Linked DNA regions of Homo sapiens. The protein of the gene in region 5 purifies or fractionates together with the protein of the main gene of each other region. This does not show direct contact. Each region holds a gene or a part of one and is shown on either strand. Other genes may lie near its edges.

The links.
Region 1: the proteins of IMMP2L (region 5) and ACTR10 purify together in Homo sapiens (affinity purification with mass spectrometry; one large-scale study listed by BioGRID and IntAct). This does not show direct contact.
Region 2: the proteins of IMMP2L (region 5) and WDHD1 purify together in Homo sapiens (affinity purification with mass spectrometry; one large-scale study listed by BioGRID and IntAct). This does not show direct contact.
Region 3: the proteins of IMMP2L (region 5) and ACOT2 purify together in Homo sapiens (affinity purification with mass spectrometry; one large-scale study listed by BioGRID and IntAct). This does not show direct contact.
Region 4: the proteins of IMMP2L (region 5) and LSG1 purify together in Homo sapiens (affinity purification with mass spectrometry; one large-scale study listed by BioGRID and IntAct). This does not show direct contact.
Region 6: the proteins of IMMP2L (region 5) and DCLK1 purify together in Homo sapiens (affinity purification with mass spectrometry; one large-scale study listed by BioGRID and IntAct). This does not show direct contact.
Region 7: the proteins of IMMP2L (region 5) and ANKRD52 purify together in Homo sapiens (affinity purification with mass spectrometry; one large-scale study listed by BioGRID and IntAct). This does not show direct contact.

The regions. Positions count from the first base shown.
Region 1 is NC_000014.9:58,209,696-58,213,732, forward strand, and holds part of ACTR10 (actin-related protein 10), read left to right. Parts: intron 1-1,596; coding exon 1,597-1,704; intron 1,705-3,935; coding exon 3,936-4,003; intron 4,004-4,037. UniProt on the Homo sapiens protein: Part of the dynactin complex that activates the molecular motor dynein for ultra-processive transport along microtubules.
Region 2 is NC_000014.9:54,960,875-54,964,911, reverse strand, and holds part of WDHD1 (WD repeat and HMG-box DNA-binding protein 1), read left to right. Parts: intron 1-1,739; coding exon 1,740-1,960; intron 1,961-2,058; coding exon 2,059-2,174; intron 2,175-2,360; coding exon 2,361-2,414; intron 2,415-4,037. UniProt on the Homo sapiens protein: Core replisome component that acts as a replication initiation factor. Binds directly to the CMG complex and functions as a hub to recruit additional proteins to the replication fork.
Region 3 is NC_000014.9:73,572,116-73,576,595, forward strand, and holds the end of ACOT2 (acyl-coenzyme A thioesterase 2, mitochondrial), read left to right. Parts: intron 1-1,272; coding exon 1,273-1,475; intron 1,476-2,170; coding exon of another isoform or gene 2,171-2,254; exon of another isoform or gene 2,255-2,292; intron 2,293-2,792; coding exon 2,793-3,398; 3' UTR 3,399-3,540; downstream 3,541-4,480. UniProt on the Homo sapiens protein: Catalyzes the hydrolysis of acyl-CoAs into free fatty acids and coenzyme A (CoASH), regulating their respective intracellular levels. Displays higher activity toward long chain acyl CoAs (C14-C20).
Region 4 is NC_000003.12:194,665,222-194,669,258, reverse strand, and holds part of LSG1 (large subunit GTPase 1 homolog), read left to right. Parts: intron 1-2,686; coding exon 2,687-2,807; intron 2,808-2,969; coding exon 2,970-3,056; intron 3,057-3,615; coding exon 3,616-3,702; intron 3,703-4,037. UniProt on the Homo sapiens protein: Functions as a GTPase. May act by mediating the release of NMD3 from the 60S ribosomal subunit after export into the cytoplasm during the 60S ribosomal subunit maturation.
Region 5 is NC_000007.14:110,666,523-110,670,559, reverse strand, and holds part of IMMP2L (mitochondrial inner membrane protease subunit 2), read left to right. Parts: intron 1-4,037. UniProt on the Homo sapiens protein: Catalyzes the removal of transit peptides required for the targeting of proteins from the mitochondrial matrix, across the inner membrane, into the inter-membrane space. Known to process the nuclear encoded protein DIABLO.
Region 6 is NC_000013.11:36,110,745-36,114,781, reverse strand, and holds part of DCLK1 (serine/threonine-protein kinase DCLK1), read left to right. Parts: intron 1-2,566; coding exon 2,567-2,913; intron 2,914-4,037.
Region 7 is NC_000012.12:56,248,245-56,252,281, reverse strand, and holds part of ANKRD52 (serine/threonine-protein phosphatase 6 regulatory ankyrin repeat subunit C), read left to right. Parts: coding exon 1-107; intron 108-186; coding exon 187-267; intron 268-3,411; coding exon 3,412-3,523; intron 3,524-3,715; coding exon 3,716-3,787; intron 3,788-4,037. UniProt on the Homo sapiens protein: Putative regulatory subunit of protein phosphatase 6 (PP6) that may be involved in the recognition of phosphoprotein substrates.

The DNA.
Region 1 (4,037 bases), on a different chromosome or scaffold from region 5:
ACCAAGAATATGTTTTAAGATTAGTATATTTCATAGTAGACCAGAATCTTAATTATTCAAATTTTTAAAAATCTTTGCCTTAAAATTTAGGTTTTATCAGCAAGGGAAAATGTAAGATTATATGTATTAAGTGAATAAGAAATTAAGCACATATAAATGTATTTTCATACATTTACTGAATTCAAAACATACCTAATACCAAAAATCACAATGTCTTTATGAGGTAAAGGCACTTAATATTTCTAAGTTATATTTTTGTAAAGCAGGTACAGGGAATCAGGTTGCATAGCCTCCAGTACCTACTGATGTCATGAGTCCAGGAATTTCATTTGTAGTAAGGAGAACATAAAGCAAAACAAGAAGTCGTGTCAGCTGTTATCTGAATAAAGTAGAATATTCTCTGTATTTATAATTAGAGTTTGTGTTAATATCTTCTATATGACTAGAATACCTACTTTATTTAGATAAGGGGAATACAGCCATTATTTTGTCTGCCATTCGATTATGATGGACTGTCATATTTTGATTGAATATCTAGTATTTGAGATGGCACCAGGTTTGGCAAATTCTTACTGAAAAAAATGTTGCACAGAGCCAACTATTTGTATATTTTGTTCTTTGGTTTAATTTTAACTGCCAGTTACAGTTCAATTAGCCGGACGTGGTGGCATGCACCTGTAGTCCCAGCTACTCAGGAGACTAAGGTGGGAGGATTGCTTGAGCCCAGGAGGTCGAGGCTGCAGTGAGCTGTGATTGCACCACTGCAATCCAGCCTGGGCAATGGAGCAAGACTTTGTCTCTAAGTTAAAAATAAAAATTTAAATAAAAAGAAACAGTAAAAATATATAGTTCATATTACAAACTTTGCAAATAAAAACAATGAAGAATTTTTTTTCTCTATTTTCATCTTAATGGTAAAGGCATCTATTTTTTAAATTTAACATCTTCCTCTATATTTATGTTTCTTGACCTCTTCTTTTTTTCTTTTTTTTTTTTTGAGACAGAGTCTTGCTTTATTGCCCAGGCTGGAGTGCAATGGCGCGATCTCGGCTCACTGCAACCTCCGCCTCCTGGGTTCAAGCAATTCTCCTGCCTCAGTCTCCCTTGTAGCTGAGATTACAGGCAGATGCCACAACACCCAGCTAATTTTTGTATTTTTAGTAGAGACAAGGTTTCACCATGTTGGTTAGGCTGGTTTCGAACTCCTGACCTCGGGTGATCCGCCCGCCTCAGCCTCCCAAAGTGCTGGGATTACAGGCGTGAGCCTCTGTGCCCAGCCTCTAGACCTCTTCTTTTATCCCTTTCAATTTTCCCTTCCAAAAGAGAACAAGAATAAAGAAAAATGCTTCATAATTGTCATTTTGGAATGAAACAGTTGAGCTATTTTTATTACAGTGTATTTTGGTTATTGAGTGAATTTATATAAATCAACAAACTAGTTCTTAATTACTCTCATAAAATGGTTGAGTAGGTATCACCATATAAATTAATATAATGTTCCTGTGAATTTTTTCAAATATATTTGGATATAAGGCAAATACCTTCAAATAATGACACTCATTCCGGTTTTGTTGTATTGATTTTGTTATTTTCTAGGTTCCATCTGTCTTGCTTGCTCCAAGTCATCTAATGGCTCTTCTGACGCTTGGAATTAATTCTGCCATGGTCCTAGATTGTGGATATAGGGAAAGCCTGGTGTTACCCATATCTTTTTTGTCAGCCAGCCACCTTTGCAGTTTTTACTCTACTTTAACTAAAATAATTAGGCTAATTATAAATGATTTGTATTGTACTGAACTATTTTGGGTTACTATGTACAAATATGAATTACAATGTGGAAAAAGTTCACAGGATTATAAGACTTAAGTTTACTTTTTGTAGAAGTTATTATTGTTTGGTCCCAGGATATACTCCAGGAGTATACCTCATGAATATTATGTTCAGTTTTTAAAAGAAAAATCAGGATGTGTCAAGTTGACTAGAATAGTCAAGTTTTAAGAAAAAAATCATACAAAGAGTAATTGGAGAAACTGAAATGAGTATGTTCGATCCAGAAAGATTTCAAAACTTAATGGCAACATGAAATCAGCCTTCAAACAGCTGAAGAGCTCACTGGCCTCTGTAGTCGCAGCTACTCAGGAGGCTGAGACAGGAGAGTGGCGTGAACCCGGGAGGCGGAGCTTGCAGTGAGCCGAGATCATGCCACTGCACTCCAGCCTGGGCGACAGAGCGAGACTCTGTCTCAAAAAAAAAAAAAGAATACGTTTTTTCTTTTCTTTTTTTTTATTTTTTAAATCTCCAGAGGCTTTCGTGAAGGCAGTATGCCTTAATGTTTACAAGCTTGGGTTTTAGAATCAAATACACAATAAGTGCAATGCAAATCTCAGCTAAGCTTTTTACTACTTGGTCAGGTAGCTTAATCTCTTCGGGCCTCAGTTTCTTTATCTATAAATTGGGGATTATAATATTTCCATCTCATAGAAGAGTTGTGTTAGTTGAGTGAGGTAATATATATAAAGTGTTCAGCATAGGATTTGGCACATAGTAATTTTCTCAGTACGTGCTGTGGTTTTTATATCATTGACCATAGGCAAGAACTTACTAATAATTCAAGCTGTCCCAAAATTGAATTACTGACCGTATAAACTAGTACATTTCTTTTCATTATAAATATTTAAGCAGAGTATAGATGAGCATCTCTTAGAATTGTCCTAGTGGACATTGCTTTATTGAAAAGGATGTTGACATGCATGAATGTAAGACTTGCAATTTTGAGATCTACATGTATATTTATTAGAAAAAATATTCATGGAAGGAAATTAAGCATCATTAACTCCTAAGGAATTTAATCAAGCAGTAGTGTTTTTTAGTATAAAGTACTTTGTGTTTAATTCTTAAAACAACCATGCAACATGAGTATTATTATTCTCCTTATATAAATGAGAATATTGACAGTTGGGATGGGTAGTTGACTCCTCTTCTTATAAACATGTAGCCAGGATATAAACCCATGTTTGTTTCCAAAGCTGATGCTCTTACCAGTATACTTAGCAAACCCACAGTAAATATTGTTTACTTCCCTCTCAGCTCCGTCCTGTAGAAATATAATGTGGACCATGTATGCAATTTAGAGTGTTCTAGGCTGGGTGCCGTGGCTCACACATGTAATCCTAGCACCTTGGGAGGCTGAGGTGGGCAGATCACCTGAGGCCAAGAGTTCGAGACCAGCCTGCCCAACTTGTCAAAACCCCATCTCTACGAAAAATACAAAAATTAGCCGGGTGTGGTGGCACATGCCTGTAATCCCAGCTGCTTGGGAGGCTGAGGCACAAGAATCACTTGAACCTGGGAGGTGGAGGTTGCACTGAGCCGAGATCGCACCACTGCACTCCAGCCTGGGCTACAGAGCAAGACCCTGTCTCAGAAAAAAGTTAATAGAGTTTTCTAAGAGCCACATTTTAAAAGGCATGAGAAAAGATGAAATTAATAGTATATTTTATTTAACCCAATGTATTCAAAATATTCCAATATTCCATCAATACAAAAATTATAATGAGGTATTTTAGTGAGGTTTTTTGGTATTAAAACCTTCTAAATTTGGTGTGTAGCTTAGTCTTAGAGCACATCTCAATTCAGACTAGCCATATTTCATGTATTAAGTAGCTGCACAGGCCTAGTGGCTACTTTATCAGATGCCCCAGCTGTATCTAATGAATTGTGTGTGGTCATGTGCTTATGTGTATTTTTATTCTGTTTTCTTTGATGAAGAACATGAAAAAAAACTTACTCTTTGATTTTTCTGTAACTATGTTAAAAATAAGAAATAAAAATTTGTCACTAAAGCATATTTAGAACAGTACTGCAGAAGGTGAGGAAAATATCAAGGAAACCACATTTTATCTCCTAAAATAGTAGTATCCTTGACTACTCTATAGATATATGAAGGAATCCCAGTTCTAAATTGTTGGGGAGCACTACCCCTAGGAGGAAAAGCTCTTCACAAGTAAGTTTCTTGGAATTTAACATATTCATTTCAC
Region 2 (4,037 bases), on a different chromosome or scaffold from region 5:
GCCTTTTTATTTGTACAACACATATAAGGAAACATATTTCATGTATTTGCTATTTAGCCTAGAGGAGCTTTTCCCTGTGGCAGTGTTTCTCATATCAAAAATACCAGGGGACTCATATCAAAGATGCCAGGGCAGGAGGATATCTTGAGCCCAGGAGTTCAAGGGGATTGTTGAGTTCTTCTTTAGCATTCCTGACCCCCGGGCAAATGCCTTTAGTTCAGAATAGTCACTGTGGAAACCAGACTATTCCTTTTTATTTCTTTTTTTTTTTTTGAAACGAAGTCTCGCTCTGTTGCCCAGGCTGGAGTGCAGTGGCGCGATCTCTGCTCACTGCAAGCTCCGCCTCCCAGGTTCACGCCATTCTCCTGCCTCAGCCTCCCGAGTAGCTGGGACTACAGTTGTCTGCCACCACACCAGCTAATTTTTTGTATTTTTAATAGAGACTGTGTTTCACCGTGTTAGCCAGTATGGTCTCGATCTCCTGACCTTGTGATCCACCTGTCTCAGTCTCCCAAAGTGCTAGGATTACAGGTGTGAGCCACTGCGCCCGGCTTCCTTTTTATTTCTAAATGCCCCCTGAGGCAGTGTACCATCCCGATTAAGAAGTACTGATTATAGATAAATGATACTAAAAATCTTGAAAAGGGCATCCAGGTGAATATCTAAAGCTTTTGTGCTGATGGATCAGACATGGAATATCTAAGTAAGAAAATAGTTCTAATACACTATGAATTAGGAGACCCTTAGTAATCTTCAAAATACCAACTTTTCTCAGTTTGTTGTTTTTCTTTTTTGTATTTTTTAGAGAAAGGGTCTCACTCTGTTACCCAGGCTAGAGTACAGTGGCAAGATTGTAACTCACTGCAGCCTCAACCTCCTGGGCTCTAGTGAACCTCCTGTCTCAGGCTCCTGAGTAGATAAGACTGCAGGTGCATGCCACCACGCCCAGCTAATTTATTTTTTGTAGTTATAGGGTCTCACTGTGTTGCCCAGGTTAGTCTCAAACTCCTGGCCTCTAGCAGTCCCTCTGCCTTGGCCTTCCAAAGTGCTAGGATTACAGGTGTGAGCCAGCACACCTGGCCCCCTTGATTTTTTTTTTTTTTTTTTTTTTTGAGACAGAGTCTCGCTTTCTCGCCCAGGCTGGAGTGCAGTGGTGCAATCTTGGCTCACTGCAACCTCCACCTCCCGGGTTCAAGCGATTCTCCTGCCTCAGCTTCCCGAGTAGCTGGGATTACAGGCGCACGCCACCACGCCTGGCTAATTGTGTTTTTAGTAGAGACGGGGTTTTGCCATATTGGCCAGGCTGATCTCGAACTCCTCACCTCATGATCCACCCATCTGGGCCTCCCAAAGCACTGGTATTACAGGCGTGAGCCACCGTGCCCAGCCTCCCCCTTGAATTTTTTAAACAAATTTCTTAATTTTCTTGCAATTAGTAGATTAAAGTGGTATGTAATATTTCATCAAATCTAAGCCACTGTTTATTGCATAGTGCACCATTACTTTATTCATTTAAGCCATGGAGACATAAAAATGCTGCCAAACTGACCCACCATTAATTGTAATTAATTGTAATTCCAATTTCAGAGATGTTAAAACTTGTAAAAATGTGCATCTTAGAATTAGGGAGATAGAGTAGCTAGAAAACTATTGTCTCAGTTTTACTAGTAGTGTCAGTATCTTTAAAAAGTTTTACTTGATGTTATTTGATCTCCCCCCCCCCCCCCTTTTTGGATTAGCTTTCTTGTAAACTGGAGCGAGAATTCCGTTGTGTGGAACTTGCTGATCTAATGACTCAAAATGCTGTGAATTTAGCCATTAAATATGCTTCTCGCTCTCGGAAATTAATACTGGCTCAAAAACTAAGTGAACTGGCTGTAGAGAAGGCAGCCGAATTGACAGCAACCCAGGTGGAAGAGGAAGAAGAAGAAGAAGATTTCAGAAAAAAGCTGAATGCTGGGTAAGAAATAATTTAGTTGTTTGAATTTTCCTTTACTGTCTTGAATGTTAAGTTGGTCTTTGCATAGCTCTTTATTGAATAATATTATTTTCTCTTAGTTACAGCAATACTGCTACAGAGTGGAGCCAACCAAGGTTCAGAAATCAAGTTGAAGAAGATGCTGAGGACAGTGGAGAAGCTGATGATGAAGAAAAACCAGAAATACATAAGCCTGGTGAGATACATTTTCAAGCCCATAAATCATGAGAACTATCATGGATGTGGCTTTTCCCATTTTGCTTAACTGAGGGAAATTGAATACTCATACTTTTTTTCAGACCTCTTTGCTATCTGGTTGTTGTATATTGAGGATGACTATATTTTCCCCATTTACATTATATTGCTTTATTTTAATCTGTAGGACAGAACTCGTTTTCCAAAAGTACAAATTCCTCTGATGTTTCAGCTAAGTCAGGTGAGAAATATTTATAAATTTGTAATATCAAGGAAATTTTGCAAGTCATCTGCAAAGTGACACATCTACGCAAATACACCTTAACTCTTAAGGCCACTTTTGGTGTGTGTGTGTTTATGTTTTTGTTTTTTTAATCTCAGATGTTGTTTGTGAAGCTATGGTCATTTAACAGATGTTTATAAAATGCCTATTGAGTGTCAGGCATTTTACTTAATGGTGGATACAGAAGTCAAACAGACATGTGTGGTTGATCTCTGTTTTAATGCTATTTTAGCCCAGCTGAGAAGACAGATGTTGAAGACAGATCTGGGTATCACTGAGGAAGCATGCAGGATACTGGAGAAACAGTTAAAAGGAATTGAAGGCTGGGCGCAGTGGCTCACGCCTGTAATCCCAGCACTTTGGGAGGCCGGAGTGGGCGGATAACGAGGTCAGGAGTTCTAGACTAGCCTGGCCAACACGGTGAAACCCCATCTCTACTAAAAATACAAAAATTAGCTGAGGGTGGTGGTATGTGCCTGTAATCCCAGCTACTCGGGAGGCTGAAGCAGGAGAATCACTTGAACTCAGGAGGTGGAGGTAGCAGTGAGCCGAGATCGTGCCATTGCACTCCAGCCTGGGCAATGGAGTGAGACTCCATCTCAAAAAAAAAAAAAAGGAGTTGAAAATGGTTGCGTACAGGGAGTGGGCCTGGGGGATAAGAGAAGGTTGAAGTAAGGCACTGCTGGCCCTTTTTTGGTGGGGAGCATAAACCTTATAGTACCATTTGACTTTTTAAACTGTGGACATATGTTACTTTGATTTAAAAAAATTAACTTAAAAAACATGTAGAATATGAAAAGAGCGTATGACACATAGCTGTCATCTAGCCAGTGGTGGAGGATGGGTAGGGACTTCAAGGCAGGCCTCATGGAGTGTTTACAGCAGAGACCTGAAGGATGAATAACAGTCAGCAAGGCAAAGGTGCATGGGAACAGGAGCAGAAGAGAAGCATTTGGGCTTAAGGAACAGTATGTGTGAACTGAAGGCTGCAAAAGGGTGGTGTGAAAAGCTCAGAGAGCAAAGAGAAAGTGGTGCTGAAGGGTTTCGGAGTGATGGGCAGGAGCCAAGTCATGCAGATCTGTGTAGGCCATATTAAGGATTTTGGTCTTTTTTTTATTTTATTTTATTTTTTTTAATAGAGATGGGGTGTCACTCTGTTGTCCAGGCTGGTCTCAAACTCAAGCAATTTCCTCACCTCCACATCCCAAAGTTGTTGGACCTGCAGGTGTGAGCCACCACACCCGGTCAGGATTTTGCTCTTTATTCTAAGGTCACTGAGAGACTGTTGTAGGTTTTAAGCAGAGGTATAGCATGGCACACTGTGCTGAAGAAGAACAGATAATAGACTACTGGCCAGGTGTGATGGCTCATGTCTGTAACCTCAGCATTTTGAGAGGCCAAGGTGGAAGGATCACTTGAGACCAGACGTTTGAGACCAGCCTTGGAAACAATGAAACCCTATCTCTACAAAAAGTAAATAATAAAAATATTAGCCAGGCATGGTAGTACACACCGGTAGTCCCAGGTATTTGGGAGGCTGGGACAGGAGGATATCTTGAGCCCAGGAGTTCGAGGGTGCAG
Region 3 (4,480 bases), on a different chromosome or scaffold from region 5:
AGTTAAATATGTTATTCTACTTGTACATGTGCACCAGGAGGCATATTCCTTATAAGAGGCCAGATGAGCAGTCTGGATTAATTTAAAAAAAGAGCAAAGTCAACTGGAAACAGTCCAAATGTCCATCAACAATAGAACAGATTAATAAATTGAGGTATATTTCCAGCAGTCAAAGTGATTGAACTACAGCTACAAGAATCAACATCTATCAAGATATACAAAAGAAAAGAAAAAAAAAGAATCAACATGGATGAATCTCCAAACCACTGTTGAGTGAAACAGTCAAACCCTAGGAGAACACATTCAGTATCATTCCATTTAGATACAATTCAAAAACTAGGCAAAATAAAATATTAAGGTACATAATCTAAGTGGTAATACTATGAAGAAAACCAAGAGTGATACACAGAAAGTCCAGGATACTGGAAAGAGAGGAAAGGGCACAGGGGTCTGTGGGACGTTGATGGTTTGCGGGTATCAGCACTGAACTATGTCTTAAAAGTGTTGCCTGTAAGGTGTTTGCATTTTTTTTTTTTTTTTTTTTTTTTTTGAGACAGTGTCTCGCTCTTTCGCCCAGGCTGGAGTAGTGGCACAATCTTGGCTCACTGCAACCTCCACCTCCCGGGTTCAAGCGATTCTCCTCCCTCAGCCTCCCGAGTAGCTGGGATTACAGGTGGCCGCCACCACACCCAGCTAATTTTTGTATTTTTAGTACAGATGGGGTTTCACCATGTTGGCCAGGCTGGTCTCGAACTCCTGACCTCAGGTGATCCACCCGTCTCAGCCTCCCAAAGTGCTGGGGTTACAGGCGTGAGCCACCGGACCCAGCCTGCATTATTACTATTTAATTTTGTGTGAAACACAAAACCTTTAATGTAAATGATAAAAATATCAGTAAGTGGAGTCATTCAGAATGAGTAGCCTTTTGAGTCTGTCTCCGTTGAGTAAGTGCATTCTGTTGAGTGCACTGGAGAGGAATTTGTGCTCTTCTATGTAGCAGTCTTTCTTTTTGTTTCTTGGTGGTGCACCATTAAATGGATTCATTCACCAGTTAAAGGACATTTGGGTTGTTTCCAGTCTTTGGCTACAACGAGTAAAGTCACTATAAACACTTGCCAGAGGTTTCTGGACGAACAGGTTTTCATTTCTCGTGGGTAGATACCTAGGAGTGGGATTGCTGGGTCACATGTGTGGTAAGTATATGTTTAACTTAAACCATCCAACTGTTTCAGGAATAGCTTAGTTTTGCATTTTGTTTTGTTTCTTCCCAAGAACCTGGGCCCTTTCCTGGGATTGTGGACATGTTCGGAACTGGAGGTGGCCTGCTGGAGTATCGGGCTAGTCTGCTGGCTGGGAAGGGTTTTGCTGTGATGGCTCTGGCTTATTATAACTATGAAGACCTCCCCAAGACCATGGAGACGCTCCATCTGGAGTACTTTGAAGAAGCCATGAACTACTTGCTCAGTCATCCCGAGGTTAGTTCTTCTTTCAGATTTATGGGCTATGATGTATCAGGTCTCTTCTTAAATGGTCTGGGTTTTCACAGAAGTTAGCTCATTCATGACAGCCATTCCCTACCCCAACACACACTACCTTTTTTAGTCACTTCTTATAGACAGTTTCTTTTTTTGAGATGGAGTCTCACTCTGTTGCCAGGCTGGAGTCCAGTGGTGCGATCTTGGCTCACTGCAACCTCCACCTCCCAAGTTCAAGTGATTCTTGTGCCCCACCCTCCCGAGTAGTTGGGATTACAGGCACCTGCCACCATGCTTGGCTAATTTTTGTATTTTTAGTGGAGGCGGGGTTTCACAATATTGGTCAGGCTGGTCTTGAACTCCTGACCTCAAATGATCCACCTGCTTTGACCTACCCAAGTGCTGGATTACAGGCATGAGCCACTATGCCCAGCCTAATATTTGTATTTTTTTTTTTTTAAGTAGAGATGGGGTTTCGCCATGTTGGCCAGGCTGGTCTCAAACTCCTGACCTCAAGTGATCTGCCCACCTTGGCCTCCCAGAGTGCTGGAATTACAGGCATGAGCCACCACACCTGGCCTCTTATAGACAGTTTCTATTCAATTCTATATTACTATATTTCCTGCTAGTAAAGAGATTCGTAGTTGTTATTATGCAATTTTAAATTCCAGTATTTTTTTTTTTTTTTTTTTGAGATGGAGTCTTGCTGTGTCACCCAGGCTGGAGTGCAATGGCATGATCTCGGCTCACTGCAAACTCCACCTCCCAGGTTCAATTGATTCTTCTGCCTCAGCCTCCCACGTAGCTGTGACTACAGGCACGTGCCACTACTGCCCGGCTAATTCTTGTATTTTTAGTAGAGATGTTTCACCATGTTGGCCAGACTGATCTCAAACTCCTGACCTCAAATGATCCACCCGCCTCAGCCTCCCAAACTGTTGGGATTACAGGCGTCAGCCACCACTCCCGGCCATGAGATGATGTACTTGTTGATGATGACTCAGTTTAGTTATGACAGTGGGAATGGGTGGCTCAGGTGGGAGACAGAAAAAGATCATGGGAGATACGAGATTAAGGAACTGAGAAACCAGAGAATAATTGATAGATCTTCCACATGGTTATCACCAAGAGTGGTGATGGACAAATTGTGGAAAGGAAGAGATAGAGGGGAGGTAAATTCTCAAAGTTGCAAATCTGGGTAAATGGTAGAACCTAGATTCAGACTCAGGTTCAACTAACTTCCAGGGTGGACACAACTCACCATATTCCACTGTTTGTGGAATCATTCTTCTTCTTTTTCCTTTGTCCCTTTCTCAGGTAAAAGGTCCAGGAGTTGGGCTGCTTGGAATTTCCAAAGGGGGTGAGCTCTGCCTTTCCATGGCCTCTTTCCTGAAGGGCATCACGGCTGCTGTCGTCATCAACGGCTCTGTGGCCAATGTTGGGGGAACCTTACACTACAAGGGCGAGACCCTGCCCCCTGTGGGCGTCAACAGAAATCGCATCAAGGTGACCAAAGATGGCTATGCAGACATTGTGGATGTCCTGAACAGCCCTTTGGAAGGACCTGACCAGAAGAGCTTCATTCCTGTGGAAAGGGCAGAGAGCACCTTCCTGTTCCTGGTAGGTCAGGATGACCACAACTGGAAGAGTGAGTTCTATGCTAATGAGGCCTGTAAACGCTTGCAGGCCCATGGGAGGAGAAAGCCCCAGATCATCTGTTACCCAGAGACAGGGCACTATATTGAGCCTCCTTACTTCCCCCTGTGTCGGGCTTCCCTGCATGCCTTGGTGGGCAGTCCTATTATCTGGGGAGGGGAGCCCAGGGCTCATGCCATGGCTCAGGTGGATGCTTGGAAACAACTCCAGACTTTCTTCCACAAACACTTGGGTGGCCACGAGGGGACAATCCCATCAAAAGTGTAAATTTTATTTGATCATGTGGCCTCTCTGTTGCTAATCTCTCCTGGAAACATCTGCCACATTTAGTGTGTGTATGTGTATTCATTCTTTTGTTTTTAATAACTAAAGTTTTTTCCCCTCATTATTAAAATGAATTTACCAGTAAGAATGAGTTTTTAAGATTTTTATAAACTGTATACTTTATCAGTTTGGGAAGGGAGTAACTGTAGGAAACACAAGAAGTGGAAAAAGTCTCCTCTTCCTATCTCAACACACAACTGATAAGGCTTTAGTTCTGAAAGGAAAAGTGAGTAACATCAATTAACAGTGTCTGGTACGTAAATGGAGTTCAATAATTATTTGCTGAATGAGTATAAGTGAGCCAGGCGTGGTGGCTCACACCTGTAATGCCAGCACTTTGGGAGGCTGAGGTGGGCGGATCACTTGAGGTCAGGAGTTTGAGACCAGTCTGGCCAACGTGATGAAACCCCATCTCTCCTAAAAATACAAAAAATTAGCCAGGCGTGGTGGCAGGCACCTGTAGTCACAGCTACTTGGGAGGCTGAGGCAGGAGAATTGCTTGAACCTGGGAGGCGGAGGTTGCAGTGAGAAGAGGTTGCAGTGAGAAAAGATTGTGCTACTACCCTCCAGCCTGGGCAACAGCAAGACTCTGCCTCAAAAATTAATTAATTAATTAATTAAATGATTACCTACTGTGGAAGAAAAGCACATAATATAAAAAGTGTATCAGATTTGAGTTCCTCCTTTAAGAATGGAAGTTAACATCTTGCCTATAAACTGATTACTAGTTAGATATAAAACTACTAAAAATTTTCAAAACCAATACATATTTAGTTCTTTGATATCTTCTCCTTGGATTAATAAGGATTCTCCTAGTGCAAATAAATTTTACATTCCTGTTTATACATATGGACTTTTAGGATTTGTTTCAAAAGCTGATAAAACATTATTGAGATGAATTACATAAGTGATTTTAACAATGACAAATGTGAAGTTAAATAACAATTTAGGCTTGGCGTTGGTGACTCACACTTGTAATGCCAGCACTTTGGGAGACCAAGGCCAGTGGATTGCTTGAGCTCAGG
Region 4 (4,037 bases), on a different chromosome or scaffold from region 5:
ACTAAAATCAAGTAATTAACGTATCCATCACCTCACATTGTTTTTTTGTGTGTGCGGTGAGAACAAGATATATACTGTCTTAGCAAATTTCATATTATTAACTAATAAATGTGTTATTATTAACTATGGACACCAGGCTGTACATTAGACCTCCAGAACTTATTCATCCTGCCTCAGTAAAACTTTACCGTTTGACCAGTATCCTCCTATTTGCCCCACTCCCTAATCTCTGGTAACCACCATTTTCTCTCTGCTTCTATGAGCTCGGCTTTATTCCACGTATAAGTGAGATCATGTGGTATTTGTCTTTCTGTGCCTGGGTTATTTCTCATAGCAGAGTGGTTCATTCATATTGTCACAAGTGTCAACATTTCCCTCTTTTGTAATGCTGAATAGTATTCCATTGTATACTACATATACCACGTTTTCTTTATCCATTCATACGTTGATGGGCATTGAGGTTGGTTCCATATCTTGGCTCTTGTGAATAGCGCTGCAGGGAACATGGGAGTGCAGGTATGTCTCATGGGTACATGAGATTTCATTTTTTAAAAGATCACTGATGAATTTTAAGGAAGCAAGATGAGTTAGGAGACTGTATCACTTTAGTCTAGCAAAATAGGCCAGAACTGAAATACAGGTAGTAGAAGAAGGGAGAAAATAAGAGGAACAAGAACACTTAAGGAGCTAGAGTAAACCAGACTTGATGGAGAGGGTAGTGTAAGTGAAAAAGAGTGAAGGGACAAAAATAAACTCCTGGGTTTCACAGTGAAATAACCACTTCACCCACTAGGATAGCTAAAATAAAAGAGACTATAACAAATGTTGGTGAGGATGTAGAGAAATTATAACACCATACATCGCTGTGGGAGTATAAAATGGTGTAGCTGTTTTATAAAAAAATTTTGGCAGTTCCTCAAAAGGTAAAACATGGAATTACCATCTGATCCAGCAGTCCCACTCCTGGGTATATGCCCGAAAGAAATGAAAACATGTCTACACAAAAATATGTGCATGTGTATTCATAGCAGCATTATTCGTAATCACCAAAAAGTGGAAACACCAAAAAGTCCTAAAGAGGCAAATCTACAGAAAGTAGATGATTTCCACCAGGTACCTGGGGGTGTACAGTGACTGCTAATGGGTAAAGCTTTCTTTTTGGAGTGATGAAAATATTCTAAAATGGATTGTGGCAATGGCTGCACAACTCTGTGAATATACTGAAAATTATTGAATTGTATGCTTTAGTGGGTGGATTGTATAGTATGTGAATCATATTGTAGTAAAGCTATATATATATATATATATATATATATTTTTTTTTTTTTTTTTTTTGAGACGGAGTCTCTCTCTTGTCGCCCAGGCTGGAGTGCAGTGGTGCGATCTCAGCTCACTGCAACCTCTGCCTCCCAGGTTCAAGCGGTTCTCCTGCCTCAGCCTCCTGAGTAGCTGGGATTACAGGCATGCACCACCACCCCTGGCTAATTTTTGTATTTTTACTAGAGACGGGGGTTTCACCTTGTAGGCCAGGCTGGTCTCGAACTCGTGACCTTGTGATCCGCCCACCTTGCCCTCCCAAAGTGCTGGGATTACAGACGTGAGCCACCGCACCTGGCTGCTATTTTCTTCTTAAAGTCATTAGTAATATCTGCCAGAACAGTTTTAGTGGAGTGAGAGAGCCACAGCTGGAATCTAGAGAAACAGGAAGTGGGAGGTGAGGAAATCAAGGAATGAGCAAGTTGTATTCTCCTGAGATAGCTGACTATGGCAGGGAAAGAGAAGTGTAAGGGTGTGTATGAGAAGGATCAGGGTTAATGGTAGTATGTTCTTAGGTTATGGGGTGAGACAGTAGAGAGGGAAGTTGGAAAGATTTGTTTTGGCAGTATCTGTTCGAAGTTTACAGTTGCAGGCTGGGTGCGGTGGCTCATGCCTGTAACCCCAGCACTTTGGGAGGCCGAGGCGGGCGGATCACCTGAGGTCAGTAGTTCGAGACCAGCCTGGCCAACATGGCAAAACCCCGTCTCTACTAAAAATACAAAAATTAGCCGGGCGTGGTGGTGCGGGCCTGTAGTCCCAGCTACTCAGGAGGCTGAGTTGGGAGAATTGTTTGAGGTTGCAGTGAACCGAGACTGTGCCACTTCACTCCAGCCTGGGTGACAGAGTGAGACTCTGTCTCAAAAAAAAAACAGAAGACAAAGAAAGCAAGTTTACAGTTTCATATCCTATGAGCCAGCACCTCTACTTCTCAGCATCTACCCCAGAGCAGCAGAATTGCCCGGAGAACTCTTTCATACAGATTCCTGGCCCTATCCTCTAGACTCCAGAGCATCTATTCAGTGAGTGGGGGTTAGAGCTGCAGCATTTACATTTTTAACAAGCTACCAGATGATGCTGTATTTTAATAATGAAAACTTGGAAACTGAATGTTCAATAGCAGGGAAAATGTGATATAGACACAGTATGAAATACTGTGTGGCAGTCAAAAAGAATGTAGTAACTCTGGATAGTTATTTGGTATAAAACTTCATTTGGGAATAATAATTTACCCAAGGCTAGAAGAATCTAAATCAAGAAATCTTAAGTTCTCTTAGGCTCTCATTTTTAGTTTTCTCAGTTTATCAGTATGACCAAACACTCTGTATCTATACTGCCTCTTAAGTAATAGTACTTTTCTTTATTTGAACAGAGAAACTTAATATTAAGTTTGTGCCTGCTGAGGCTAGAACTGGACTACTGTCTTTCGAGGAGAGCCAGAGAATTAAGAAGCTCCATGAAGAAAACAAACAGTTCTTGTGTATACCGAGGAGGTGAGCTGAAGAAGAATTTAGAATGCCACAAAACATCCGAGGCTGCTGAGTATTCATTTTTTAAATTGCTTCTTTTTCTCAGCTGCCATTATTAGATCCAAATTACCTATTTTATTTTGGTTACTTATATGAGGAATTTTTTTCCTTCTATGATTGTTTCAGACCAAACTGGAACCAAAATACTACCCCAGAAGAACTCAAACAAGCAGAGAAAGATAACTTTCTAGAATGGAGACGTCAGCTTGTCCGGTGAGTATTATAGACTCTATGAAGACTTACTTTGAAATCCTGAGTTCAGATATTTGGCATGCTTACACAGCCATTTGTGTTTTGAAGTTTTGATTCTTTTAAGAAGGAAATGGTAGCATTCTGCTAACAAGTGCAAATAGATGTATGCACAAACAAGATTGCTAGGTGCAAATGCATCCTTGCACAGAGATCGTGAGTTGGTTACTCTGCTCAGTTCCGGGCCTTTTCCTTTCATTCCCTTCTTTGGCCATTGGGCATCCTGGAGTTGATCGCTGCTCTCCTGCACATTTTTCCAGTAAGAGTGTGGGAAAGAAATGACTTTGTGTGATAGGTAAACTTCCAGGGCATAAATAGCTTCAGGATAAAATTTGAATTTGGTGGAGTATTGTCTAAATAAATAGTATTTTTATGGTGTCTCAGCAGGAAATATATAAAATAATTTGACTCTGGATATTTGTGCCCAGTACTTATTTTTAATGTAATAAATTTGAGCATTTACACTGCTAAAAATTGTCTATTATAATCTGGCAAATATATAAACTTCTCATTCAAAAACTAGGCTAGAAGAGGAACAGAAGCTGATATTGACTCCATTTGAACGAAATTTGGACTTTTGGCGCCAGCTCTGGAGAGTCATTGAGAGAAGGTGAATTATCATTTTCTTTTGTGTAATAAAGACATTGTAGTGAAGTTATATTCGATTTGGCTGTTGATATAGGCTTATAGGCTCAGGGTATGGGAATTAAGCTATGCAGAGGGTTACTGAGAATTATAAAAACACAGCATGATACTACCGTATATTTTGTATAGTTTTTTTGTTGTTAGATGAATATGTTGATAAGTGTGTGAGAATAATGAACATTTTCTGCAAGGTGAATTCTGAAGCACCTATATAGATATTTTAGCAAATGTATATTTGGTTTCTACTGGTAATGTGGAAAATATGGATACGAAAAAGAGTTAAGTTCCTGCCTGCAAAGA
Region 5 (4,037 bases):
CGCCACTGCATCTGGCTAATTTTTGTATTTTTAGTAGAGACAGGGTTTTGCCATGTTGGCCAGGCTGGTCTCGAACTCCTGACCTCAAGTGATCTGTCCACCTCGGCCTCCCAAAGTGCTGGGATTACAGGCTTGAGCCACCACACCCGGCTGCGTAGCGTTTTTTAAATTCATGTGTGTATTAGCTTGCTAGGACTCTCATAACAAAATACCGCAGATTGTGGCTTAAACAACAGAAATTTATTTTCTGACAATTCTGGAACTAGAAGTCCAAGATCAAGGGTTCAGTATATGTTTGGTTTTTTTCTATAGTCCCCCTCCTTGGCTGTTGATGCCACCTTCTTGCTATGTTCTCACATGAACTTCTCTGTGTGCACATGTGCTTCTGGTGTTTCTCTGTGTGTCATAATCTCCTCTTCTCGTAAGGTCACTAATCCGGTTGCCTTCAGGCCTCATTTTAACTTAATCATCCCTTTAAAGTTTCCATATCCAAATACAGTCACATTCTGAGGTATTAGGAGTTAAGACTTCAACATATAAAGTTGAGGGAACACAATTTAGCACATAACAATGTGTACTTACTTATTGATGAGTCTATTTTTTCAGGAAAGAACGTGGGACCTAGCAGTATTGAGAAGCAATTATATTAGGGCAACTATATTCTTATTTGTCAAGGACAGTCCTGATTTATTTTTATTATCCTGACTTAATAAAAATAGCACCCCCTTGGACTGCCAGAAGTGTTTCATTTGGATGATGAATGATATGGTGATCCTGATAGAAAGCTTCTAGAACCAGAGTTCATGCATTTGAGTCTCAGCTCAAAAAATACATTGCTGCACCTACACTACCTCGGCTACGAAATAGAGGCAGTAACAGTACTTACCCCATGGCTTATTTTAAGAATTAAATGAGTCAGTATGTGTAAGTCATTCAGAACACTGCCCTCCATAGAGTAAGCACTGAGTGTAACACTGAGTAAGCAAAGAGCAGGAGGATTGTATATGTCAAGTGTGATGGTGAATTTTATGTGTCAGCTTGGCTGTGCCAGTGTGCTCAGATCTTTGGTCGAGCATTATTCCGGATGTTTCTTTGAGTGTGCTTTTGAATGAGATTTACATTTAAATTGATCGACTTTCAGTAAAGCAGATTACTGTCTGTAATGTGGGTAAGCCTCTTCAATCAGTTGAAGGCCTGAATAGAACAACAGGATGACTTCCCCTGAGTAAGAAGGAACACACCAGCAGATCGTCTTCAGACCTCACCTGCAACATTGACTCTTCCTGGTTCACCAGCAGTCTGCCTTTGGACTCGAACTGCAACGAACTGCAACTTTTTCCTGGGTCTCCAGTCGGCTGACCTCCCTTGTCAGATTTTGGACTTGCCAAGCCTCCATAATCACATGTGCTAATTCCTTAAAGATAAATCTCTCTTTCTCTCTCTCTCTCTCTATATATATATATACATATACACACACACACACACACACACACACACACACACACACGCACACACACACACACACACACACATACTGTTGGTTCAGTTTCTCTGGAGAACCTAACTAATACAGCCAGTATGCAAGTCAAAACTGTACCTGAAGGATAATTTTTAATTTTTACAAAGTTCATATATTTCTGGATTTTTATCTTTCTATATTCACTATACTCTTTGCCTGCCTATAGACATATCAATTTTAAAAAATGAAGATCCATGACAAGACACTATGGAGGATGAACAGACACTCTCTCTCTCTCTATTATTCTCAATATTAAAAAAAAGAAACCCTGAATTTTGCATTCCCATACCATGTTTTGAAGCAATATTGATGTTATCTGATAGAATTCTCATCATTCATCATTGTGAAGATGAATTATTTTTTTCAGGAAGCAAGAGTAGTAGCCTTAATAAATGTTTAAAATAAAAGAATTCTAAGATTGGTTTTGGTAAAATGAGTGTTGATTTAAAAAAAATTGAATCACTATGCCCAAAACTGAGTCCAAAGCTAAGCAAGCGAGCAGATATATTGGCAAGAGTTCAGCCAAGTTAGAAGACTGGCAAATCACCCTTATGAAACAAAGTTAAACATCTTGAAGAGCAAATAAAGGCTTGAGGTACATCTGAGTAGCAGCTATCAAATTTTAAAAAGGGTTATTGTAGAAGAGATGGAGACCAGCTGTTTTCCAACTCTGCTGAGCTCAGATAAGAACAAAACTGGATAAAAACTGCAATATGACAGATCACTTAGGTCTAGGGAAGTATTTCCTGGAAGTTAACATAGATGGAATGGTTTTTTAGGATGTTCTGGAATACATTCAAGGGATTCTTTAAGGTTGATTAGGTTTACCTTTTCCAGACGTGAAACAAAGTGGAAACTACAGATTTAGATTCCCCAACTGAGTAATCAGCAGAATCACTAGGGTTAGGTGGGGTGAGGAGACTTTAAAAAAAAAACACAGACTTCATTTCTATGAAGTAATAGAGGTAGCTTACAGGATATATTGTTGAGAGTAAAAGCAAGGTGCACAAGAGAATATAGCATGTTACCTTTGGTATAAGTCTAAAAGGGAAAAAGGAATATGTATGTATCCTTATTTGCTTTTTTCCTGCTTCAAAAAGGAAACACAGAAACAACAAACCAGAAACTAATAAAATTAGTTACCTATTGCGGATGGGGTGGAAGATGGGAATGGGATTTCTCTTTGTATACTTTTTGTTTCAGTTTCCTATTGCTGATCTAATAAATTCCCATAAATGTATCTCCTTACAACAGCACAAATATACTATTTTACAGTTCTGGATGTCAAAAGTCCAATATGGGTCTCACTGGGCTAAAGTTAAGATGTCAGCAGGGCTGCATTCCTTCTGAAAGTTCTAGAGGATAATTCATCTCCTTCCTTTCTCTGGCTTCGAGAGGCTGCCTGCATTCCTTGGCTCATGGTCCTTTTCTGCACCTTCAAAGCCAGCAGCACTGCATTTTCAAATCTCTTTGAATCTGACCCTTCTGCCTCCTGCTTTCACTGTTTAGGACCCTTGTGATTACATTCAGGCCCATAAAATAATAGAGAATATTCTTGTTATCTTAAGGTCAACTGGTTAGCATCTTAATTCTTCTTTATTCTCTAACATATTCACAGCTTCTGGCAATTAAGATGTGGACATCTTTTGCCAGGACGGTGGTGGGGCGGCATCATTCTGCCTACCACATCTTTAAAAAATAATCTTAACTTTTGAATGATGTAAATTTATATATATTCAAAAATAAAATGGAATCAAAAATGGGTAATCAAAGCAAACTCTAAAATTGAGTATAAATAGAAACAAATAAGCCTACCTCTATATCAAATGGTAACATAACTATACTGGGGAGAAAAAAAAGAATTTATTCCAGGCCGGGCGCAGTGGCTCACGCCTGTAATCCCAGCACTTTGGGAGGCCAAGGCAGATGGATCACTAGGTCAGAAGATCGAGACCATCTTGGCTAACACGGTGAAACCCCTCTCTACTAAAAATACAAAAAATTAGCTGGGCGTGGTGGCTGGTGCCCGTAGTCCCAGCTACTCAGGAGGCTGAGGCAGGAGAATGGCATGAACCTGGGAGGCGGACCTTGCAGTGAGCCAAGATCATGCCACTGCACTCCGGCCTACAAGTACACCCTTAAACTGAGATATATTTTAAGGACTAAAATAATTACACAGACATCTTAATTTGTACTCAGCAGATTTATTGTTGGTAATGGTTGTAGTGTAGTCACCTTGAAACTATTTTGAGTATATTTTAGGAAAGTATAAATGAATAAATGTGTTAATGTTGTGGGGAGCCAGGGTAATCACTGTGGAAGAAGGGAGATAAAATATGGAGTGCGGAAGGTGAGGGAGAACTTTTTGGTATTGGATTTTTTATGTGTATTCCCTGAAATGGCATAGAATATTGACACCCCAGGAGCACTGAGCACACCTAGTACTAAACCTTGGTTTCTAAATAATGGCCAGGCACGGTGGCTCACACCTGTAATCCCAGCACTTTGGGAGGCTGAG
Region 6 (4,037 bases), on a different chromosome or scaffold from region 5:
AATTGAAAAGCTATTTTTTACAAAATCAGAAAATACAACCAACTTTAATTTAACTGCATTAAGGCGGGAACCACATCTCTTGTGGCAGAGAGAAGTTCAGTGTTATGATTACTGTAAAAATAGTTAATACATAGATTTAAAAAGATTTAATGGAAATTTCTTTTCATGATAAAATGGAAATGTATTAGCATAAGGAAATCAATGGAAATTTATTAGCATAAGGAAATCCATCTGGGCCTTTCCTGAATTCCTGAATAGTGTCACAGACTCTAAATGACTGTGGTGTGTGATCTTGGATTTGGTGGCAGCTCCTTCTCCTTCCTTTAGCTGTTGCTTTCCTGTTAGCACAGTATCATCTGTTACTGGAGTCTCACATCCTTCTCTAAGATTCTCATTCCAGTCTTTAAATCTGATTATCCAGCAGAGGAGCCTCACATTTACAGCTCAGATTAAACACATATTTCTTCTGATCATTGTTGCTTGAACCAAACCAGCAACGCCTTCTCAGTGTAACTGGAGAACTTTCTTATGCTTTTAAACATTTTCAGGGTGCTTTATCTAAGAAGATATTTTTAAAAAGTGTTTATTTTCTCTTTTAACAAACTCACTCCATGTTGCTATGTTCTTTAAAACTGCTCCCTCTTCTAATTTAATATATTTTTAAAGTTTTTGTTGAAATGTAAACTGCTCTCTGTATCTTTGTTTTGCTTTTAGTTATTAGCTTAGTATAGAAACTTATAAATAATCAGACAATTGCATATCTTCAGTTAGCACAGAATTCTGACAGAGGCTAGCTTTGCCAGCTCAGTTACATGCTGTGTGTCTCACTGGGGAGTGTTAGGGCATTCTCACATTGACATGGACCCAACGTGGTGTCCACTGGTAACTGTTCAATATAAGACCTGCTTACCGATTTCTAGTAATTTTGTTTTTGAATTTTTCTTTCAGGCTTACTGCACGATTAGGGTATGTAGCCTCAGGTCATTTTCACTCACATAGCAGGTTTGTATTTGAGATCACTTTGATCTCTATCTTCTAATTTGATCTTCAGAAAAACCTAATGAGGTTTTGTTTTATAGATAAATAAACTACCACCCAGAAATCTGAGGGACTTGTCCAAAGTCACATGCTTGGAGAGGCCAGGTCTTGAGCCCGAATTTCCAGTTCTCTCTTCCCACTATCATGTGCAGGTCATCACTCCATGAAAACTCCCAAAACACTGCTGTTTCTATAGTACCCAAATATGCCTTTCTCAGGATTTAAGAAAATATCAAAAATACATATAAGTTTTTGATATTTACTTAAATCCTGAGGAAGGCATAGCTGAGACAAGTCATGATCTGCCAGGTGAATAGAAATGGGGTTGGTTAAACTTGCACTATTCATACAACTTCTAGTGAGGCATAATGTGTATGTATACACATTAGAGAATATTTTAAGAACATCTGCAAAACAAGTGTTCAGTAACATGTATAACTGCTCTTTTTAACTTTTGAAGGCCTGCTTCAGTTATTTTTATGTGACTACTTATTCTTTGGCCTTGGATGCTTGCACTGTGAATTTAAAAATAATACAAGGACTTAGATAAAAGTCAATGGGCTGTGTTAGATTAGGCCTCGGTCATTTTACCTACAATTATGAAGGTCTTTCAGCATTTTTACCTATTCCTAGTTACAAAAACTTATTAACACAGAAAAAAAGCCATTACAAAATCTTTAATTTCAAAAGGCTTTGACCTAACTTTATGAAATATGTATTTAGAATTCGTCATTTTACAATTTGTTGTCTCTTGGTTCATGTTTTTCTTTTTTGTGTGTGTGATCTACATCTACTTAATAGTCTGATTATTTTCATTAAAAGATTTCCTGCTAAGGAGTCACTTTTAATAAACATTTACTTATATTTATTTTAGAGCCCATTTTTGAAGCTGTAGTTTGTATGTTGAACACTTCTAAAACCTCTTACTTATGAACAAGTATGAATTGACCTTATAGTATGTGTGGATCACTGTGATTGGCACTATATAGATGAGAGAAAGGAAGGGTGATTATTTGCTTGCTTTTGGAACTTTACTGGGCTTTACAAAATCTTTAGCATCAACTCTCATCAAATTCGTAAATTATATGACTATTTTAAGATGCTGTATTCTGATTCATTCTTAGTGTTTAAATTATCTCAGGTAGCAAATGGAGGTACTTCCAATTTTGAAATTTTCTGCAGATTTAAGTATCTCTAATTCCCAAAGAATATTTTCTATTTTAAATTCACTTTCACACTTCTCTAAGGTCTTTTCAAGTAGATCAGCATTTCTATCACCGACCTTAAGATGAGGAAATGGAGGAATAATGTTTTGTTTTGTTTTTCCAGGATGTGGATCTGTTGCTGACAGTGCCAGATTAGCAATCAGAAATCTTTCTTTTTCCCTAATTATTAATCACACTTCCATTGTTTGAAAAGTCAGGGCTAGCTCTTGCCCCTAAGCAGAAAAGGCAAAAGAGAGGATAAGTAGGAAAAAAGAAATGGGCATATTTTAGTATAAATTTAAATATATTTCTCTCTTCCTTAGGAGAGAGTTATGTATGTGGCTCCATAGAGCCCTTCAAGAAACTGGAGTACACCAAGAATGTGAACCCCAACTGGTCGGTGAACGTCAAGACCACCTCGGCTTCTCGGGCAGTGTCTTCACTGGCCACTGCCAAAGGAAGCCCTTCAGAGGTGCGAGAGAATAAGGATTTCATTCGGCCCAAGCTGGTCACCATCATCAGAAGTGGCGTGAAGCCACGGAAAGCTGTCAGGATTCTGCTGAACAAGAAAACGGCTCATTCCTTTGAGCAGGTCCTCACCGATATCACCGATGCCATCAAGCTGGACTCGGGAGTGGTGAAACGCCTGTACACGTTGGATGGGAAACAGGTAAGAGACATATTGTGATGTGACTTTGACTTTAAGGCAAGAACCAGGGAGTCGGAGGGTGTACGTGGCTAAAGCATACATTTTGCTCAAGTTGTTAAAGGGCCTGGGTCACTTGATCAACAAATATGTACTTGCTGGCCCTAGAACAGTCAGAAGTTTGAGTTGAGCAGGATTATTCATAGGAATAAAGTAAGAAAAAAATGCATATCTTTGAAGATTAAATAATTACTCAGTGATTTCTACTTGTTCATTTATTATTTGCTTAACATAATGATTCTTTTCTGTCATCTGTTTTCAGTTTTCTCATAGATCTTATAGCCTGAAGAATGAATGACTGAGGTGTGAAAGTAAACTCTGACCAGTAGGGAAAATTCTAACTTATTTCTTTGACCTAAATATTTTATGATTTTAAGTCTTTGTAGTGTTCGCTAGTGAGATTTACTTACATTTTATAGATTTTAAAATATGTATCTAAGAAATGACATATTTCCATCTGGATAGCTTTAAAGGCATATTTCTAGAATAGTACGCATCTTGTATTTTTCAGTGTTAAAATGAAAGGGAGGTTTTTCAGCTACAGAATGAACATCAGTTGACTTGGATGGGTGGTCATTTTAATGTGAGTTGGTCAGATGAACCCAAAGGAAGCATCACCTTTTATTGTCTTGGGTGGACTATTTTTGTACAGGTTTGACAGAACCTTGATGGTGAGTTGAATTAAAAAACATTGATTAGGGCCGGGCACGGTGGCTCACGCCTGTAATCCCAGCACTTTGGGAGGCCGAGGCAGGCGGATCACGAGGTCAGGAGATCGAGACCATCCTGGCTAACAGGGTGAAACCCCGTCTCTACTCAAAATAAAAAAAAAAAATTACCTGGGTGTGGTGGTGGGCGCCTGTAGTCCCAGCTACTCAGGGGGCTGAGGCAGGAGAATGGCGTGAACCCGGGAGGCGGAGCTTGCAGTGAGCCGAGATCGCACCACTGCACTCCAGCCTGGGTGACAGAACAAGATTCCGTCTCAAAAAAAAAAAAAAAAAAAAATTGATTATATGTACAGCATGATTTGCTAGTCATTCAGAGTTTACCAGATTATACTTTTGAGCACACTATCTTTGCTGGAAGTT
Region 7 (4,037 bases), on a different chromosome or scaffold from region 5:
TACCAGTGTGCAGTAACATTGGTGACTGCTGGGGCAGGTGTCAACGAGGCCGACTGTAAAGGCTGCTCTCCCCTCCACTACGCTGCCGCTTCTGACACTTACAGGAGGTGAGGCTACCAGTCTGGTCCTTCTCAGCCCCATTCACCTCCCTGAGCCTGGCCCTAACTTTCTCTCTCTCTTCCCCAGAGCGGAACCCCATACACCTTCCAGCCATGATGCCGAAGAGGACGAGCCACTGAAGGAGTCCCGCAGGAAGGAGGCCTTCTTGTGAGTAGCAGAGAGGGCCCCTGGGATGTGCTTTCCCCAACCCATGCAAGCTCTGGCCCTACTGTCCTCCTACCTAATCTGAACCTCTACCCTATACTGCTGCTGTCCTGCCGGTCAGCCAGCAGTGTGTCTTGAGCCCTCTGGGTGTAGTCCATAGTGGGCAAAGACAAAAGTATGAGATTGAAGCTCAGGAGCTTCAGGGGGAAAAAAAAACCCAAAAGTATGAGACATAGTTCCTTCCCTAAAGGAATGGATTTTTTTTTTTTTTTTTTTTTTGGAGACAGAGTCTCACTCTGTTGCCCAGGCTGGAATGCAGTGGTGTGATCTCAGCTCACCGCGCCCGGCTGGTCTTCTTGAGAGGATTAGAAAAGCTAAATGTACAAAATAATTTGTTTATTCCACAAGCATTAATTAAATATTTACTTACTAGGTTCCAAGTACTGTGCTAGATACTAAGGATAAAAGATGAGGCTGGGCGTAGTGGCTCAAGCTTGTAATCCTAGCACTTAGGGAGGCTGAGGTAGGCAGATCACCTGAGGTTAGGAGTTCAAGACCAGCTTGACCAACATGGTGAAACCCCGTCTCTACTAAAAATACAAAAAATTAACCAGGTGTGGTGGCACACGCCTATAATCCCAGCTACTCAGGAGGCCGAGGCAGGAGAATTGCTTGAACCAGGGAGGTGGAGGTTGTAGTGAGCCGAGATCACGCCACTGCACTCCAGCCTGGGCAACCGAACAAGACTCTGTCTCAAAAAAATTAAAATTAAAAATAGGCCGGGTGTGGTGGTTCACGCCTATAATCCCAGCACTTTGGGAGGCCGAGGCAGGCAGATCATCTGAGGTCAGGAGTTCGAGACCAGCCTGGCCAACGTGGTGAAACCCCGTCTCTACTAAAAATATAAAAATTAGCTGGTCATGTTGGCAGGCACCTGTAATCCCAGCTACTCGGGTGGCTAAGGCAGGAGAATCACTTGAACCAGGGAGGTGGAGGTTGCAGTGAGTCAAGATCACACTAATCCACTCCAACCTGGGCGACAGAGTGAGACTCTGTCTCCAAAAAAACAAATAAATAAATAAAATTAAATAAAAATTTAAAAAGGATGAATTGTCCCAAATTTCTGTCTTTCGAAAGCTAATAATCTATTGGGAAAGATAAATAAAAGGACACTTATGCATACTAATGTAAGATGTTAATGACGGGAAACTAGGTATAGGTTATGTGAGAACTCCCTGTACTATCTTCACAATTTTTCTTTTTCTTTCTTTTTTTTTTTTTTTAATTAATTTATTTTGTAGGTCAGGGATCTCTCTGTGTTGCCCACACTGGTCTCGAACTCCTGGGCTCAAGCAATCCTCCTGCCTCAGACTCCCAAAGTGCTGGGATTACAGATATGAGCCACCACACCTAGCCCACAATTTTTCTATAAATCTAATAATATTCTAAAACAAAAAGTTTATTTTTTGCTGGGCACGGTGGCACATGCATATATTCCCAGTTATTCAGGAGGCAGGTGCAGGTAAGGCAAGAGGATCATGCAAACCCAGGAGTTTGAGGCTGTAGTGCACTATGATCATGCCTATGAATAGCCACTGCACCCCAGCCTGGGCAGCCTAGTGAGACCCCGTCTCTAAAAAAAAAAAAAACCCACAAAAATCAGGTAGGCACAGTGACTCATGCCTGTAATTCCAGCACTGAGGTGGGAGGATTGCTTGAGCCCAGGAGTATGAGACCAGCCTGGCTAACACATAATGAGAACTCATCTCTATTTTATTTAATTAAATAAATAAATAAATTAATTAATTTATTTATTTATTTGAGATGGAGTCTTGCTCTGTCACCCAGGCTCTAGTGCAGTTGCGCGATCTCAGCTCACTGCAACCTCTACCTCCGGGGTTCAAGCGATTCTCCTGCCTCTTCCTCCTGAGTAGCTGGGATTACAGGTGCCTATCACCACGCCCAGCTAATTGTTTTTTTGAAGACCGAGTCTCACTCTGTTGCCCAGGCTGGAGTGCAGTGGCATGAACTTGGCTCACTGCAACCTCCACCTCCTGGGTTCAAGCAATTCTGCCTCAGCCTCCTGAGTAGCTGGGACTACAGGAGCACGCTGCCACGCCTGGCTAATTTTTTGTATTTTAGTACAGACGGGGTTTCACCATGTTGCCCAGGCTGGTCTTGAACTCCCGAGCTCAGGCGATCCACCTGCCTTGGCCTCCCAAAGTGCTAGGATTGCAGGCGTGAGCCACCACGCCCAGCCTAATTTTTGTATTTTTAGTAGAAACAGGGTTTCGCCATGTTGGCGAGGCTGGCCACGAACTCCTGACCGCGGGTGATCTGCCCACCTCAGCCTCCTAAAGTGCTGGAATTAAAGATGTGAGCAACCGAGCCAGGCCCCTGTCTCCATTTAAAATAAGTAAATTAAATAATTTTTTTTTAAGATTTATTTTTTTAAAAAGGACACTAAAATCCAAGAGGCTCAGCTATTACCTTCAGCAAGTTACTTCTCTATGCCTCAATTTCATCACCCACAGTAAGGATAAAAATAGTATCTACTTCATGGGATCTTTATGAGGATTAAATTATTTAATATACATGAAGTACTTAGAACTGTGCTTGACAGTAAGTGCTACTTTATTATTATTACTACTACTACAACTACTACTAAGGTATGAGAAGACTGCCAAGGGAGCACAGAGGAAGAGGCATCTTCCCCAGGGAAGGCTGGGAAAGGCCTCACAGAGGAGAGAAGCTGGGACTGAGTTTGAGATGAACAGGACTTATTCGGGTGGGCTGGGAGGAGAAAGCATCCTAGGGCAGGGGTTGGCGTGCCTGGAGGTGGGGAAAGCATGTTGGTCAGCAGAAGGCTGATAACTGAACATCATGCTCTAGGTTCTCTAGGAGAGCATTCAGAGGATAAAGGAGGGCATTGAAGCCAGAGGGGTTCAGGGCAGACCTTGAGAAGGTAAAGTGGGTCTGGAGCTGCCATTGAAGAATGGGTAGGATTTAGAGAACCTACCTAGAGCTGAGGACGGGTGGCGGCCAGGTAGGCCTGGAGGGCCTTGGTCCTCTCCTCTGGCCCTCCCAGAACTGTGCCCTCCTGGGCTGGGCCTGTCCCTGCCTCACAGTCTACCCCCGGCTCCCCAGCTGTCTGGAGTTCTTACTGGATAACGGTGCAGACCCCTCCCTGCGGGACAGGCAGGGCTACACAGCTGTGCACTATGCAGCCGCCTATGGCAACAGACAGAACCTCGAACTGGTATGTGTTGGGGCCCGGCCTGCAGGAGGGGAGGCAGGGGCAGGGCACAGGGTTTGTGGATTCCAAAACTAAGGGTTCAATCAAATGTGGTCTTTGGATCCAGAGGCTTAGTGGGGATTACTGCGAGTCGGGGACTGGGGTACTATCTTGGGAGTTCCAGAGTCTCAGCACCTACTTTCCTGTCCTTTGCAGCTCTTAGAAATGTCCTTTAACTGCCTGGAGGATGTGGAGAGCACCATTCCAGTCAGCCCTTTGCACTTAGCTGTGAGTCCCACGTCTTTTTTCTGTTGCCTTCCTTGTCCTACCTGTTCCCAGGCCCTAACAAAGGTGCCAGCACTTGTGAAGTTATCCTTCCTTCTGCCTTTTTGTGGGAGAGGGGATAAGCACAGTGCAGGGTAGGAAGCCTTAAGGGGCCCAAGGAGCTTGTCAAGGACTAAGACCTTGAGCTTCCCAGGGACCCCAAGAGCAGAGAAGGGGAAGGGAGGAGCAGGGAAGGTCCCGAGCTGTGTGCACT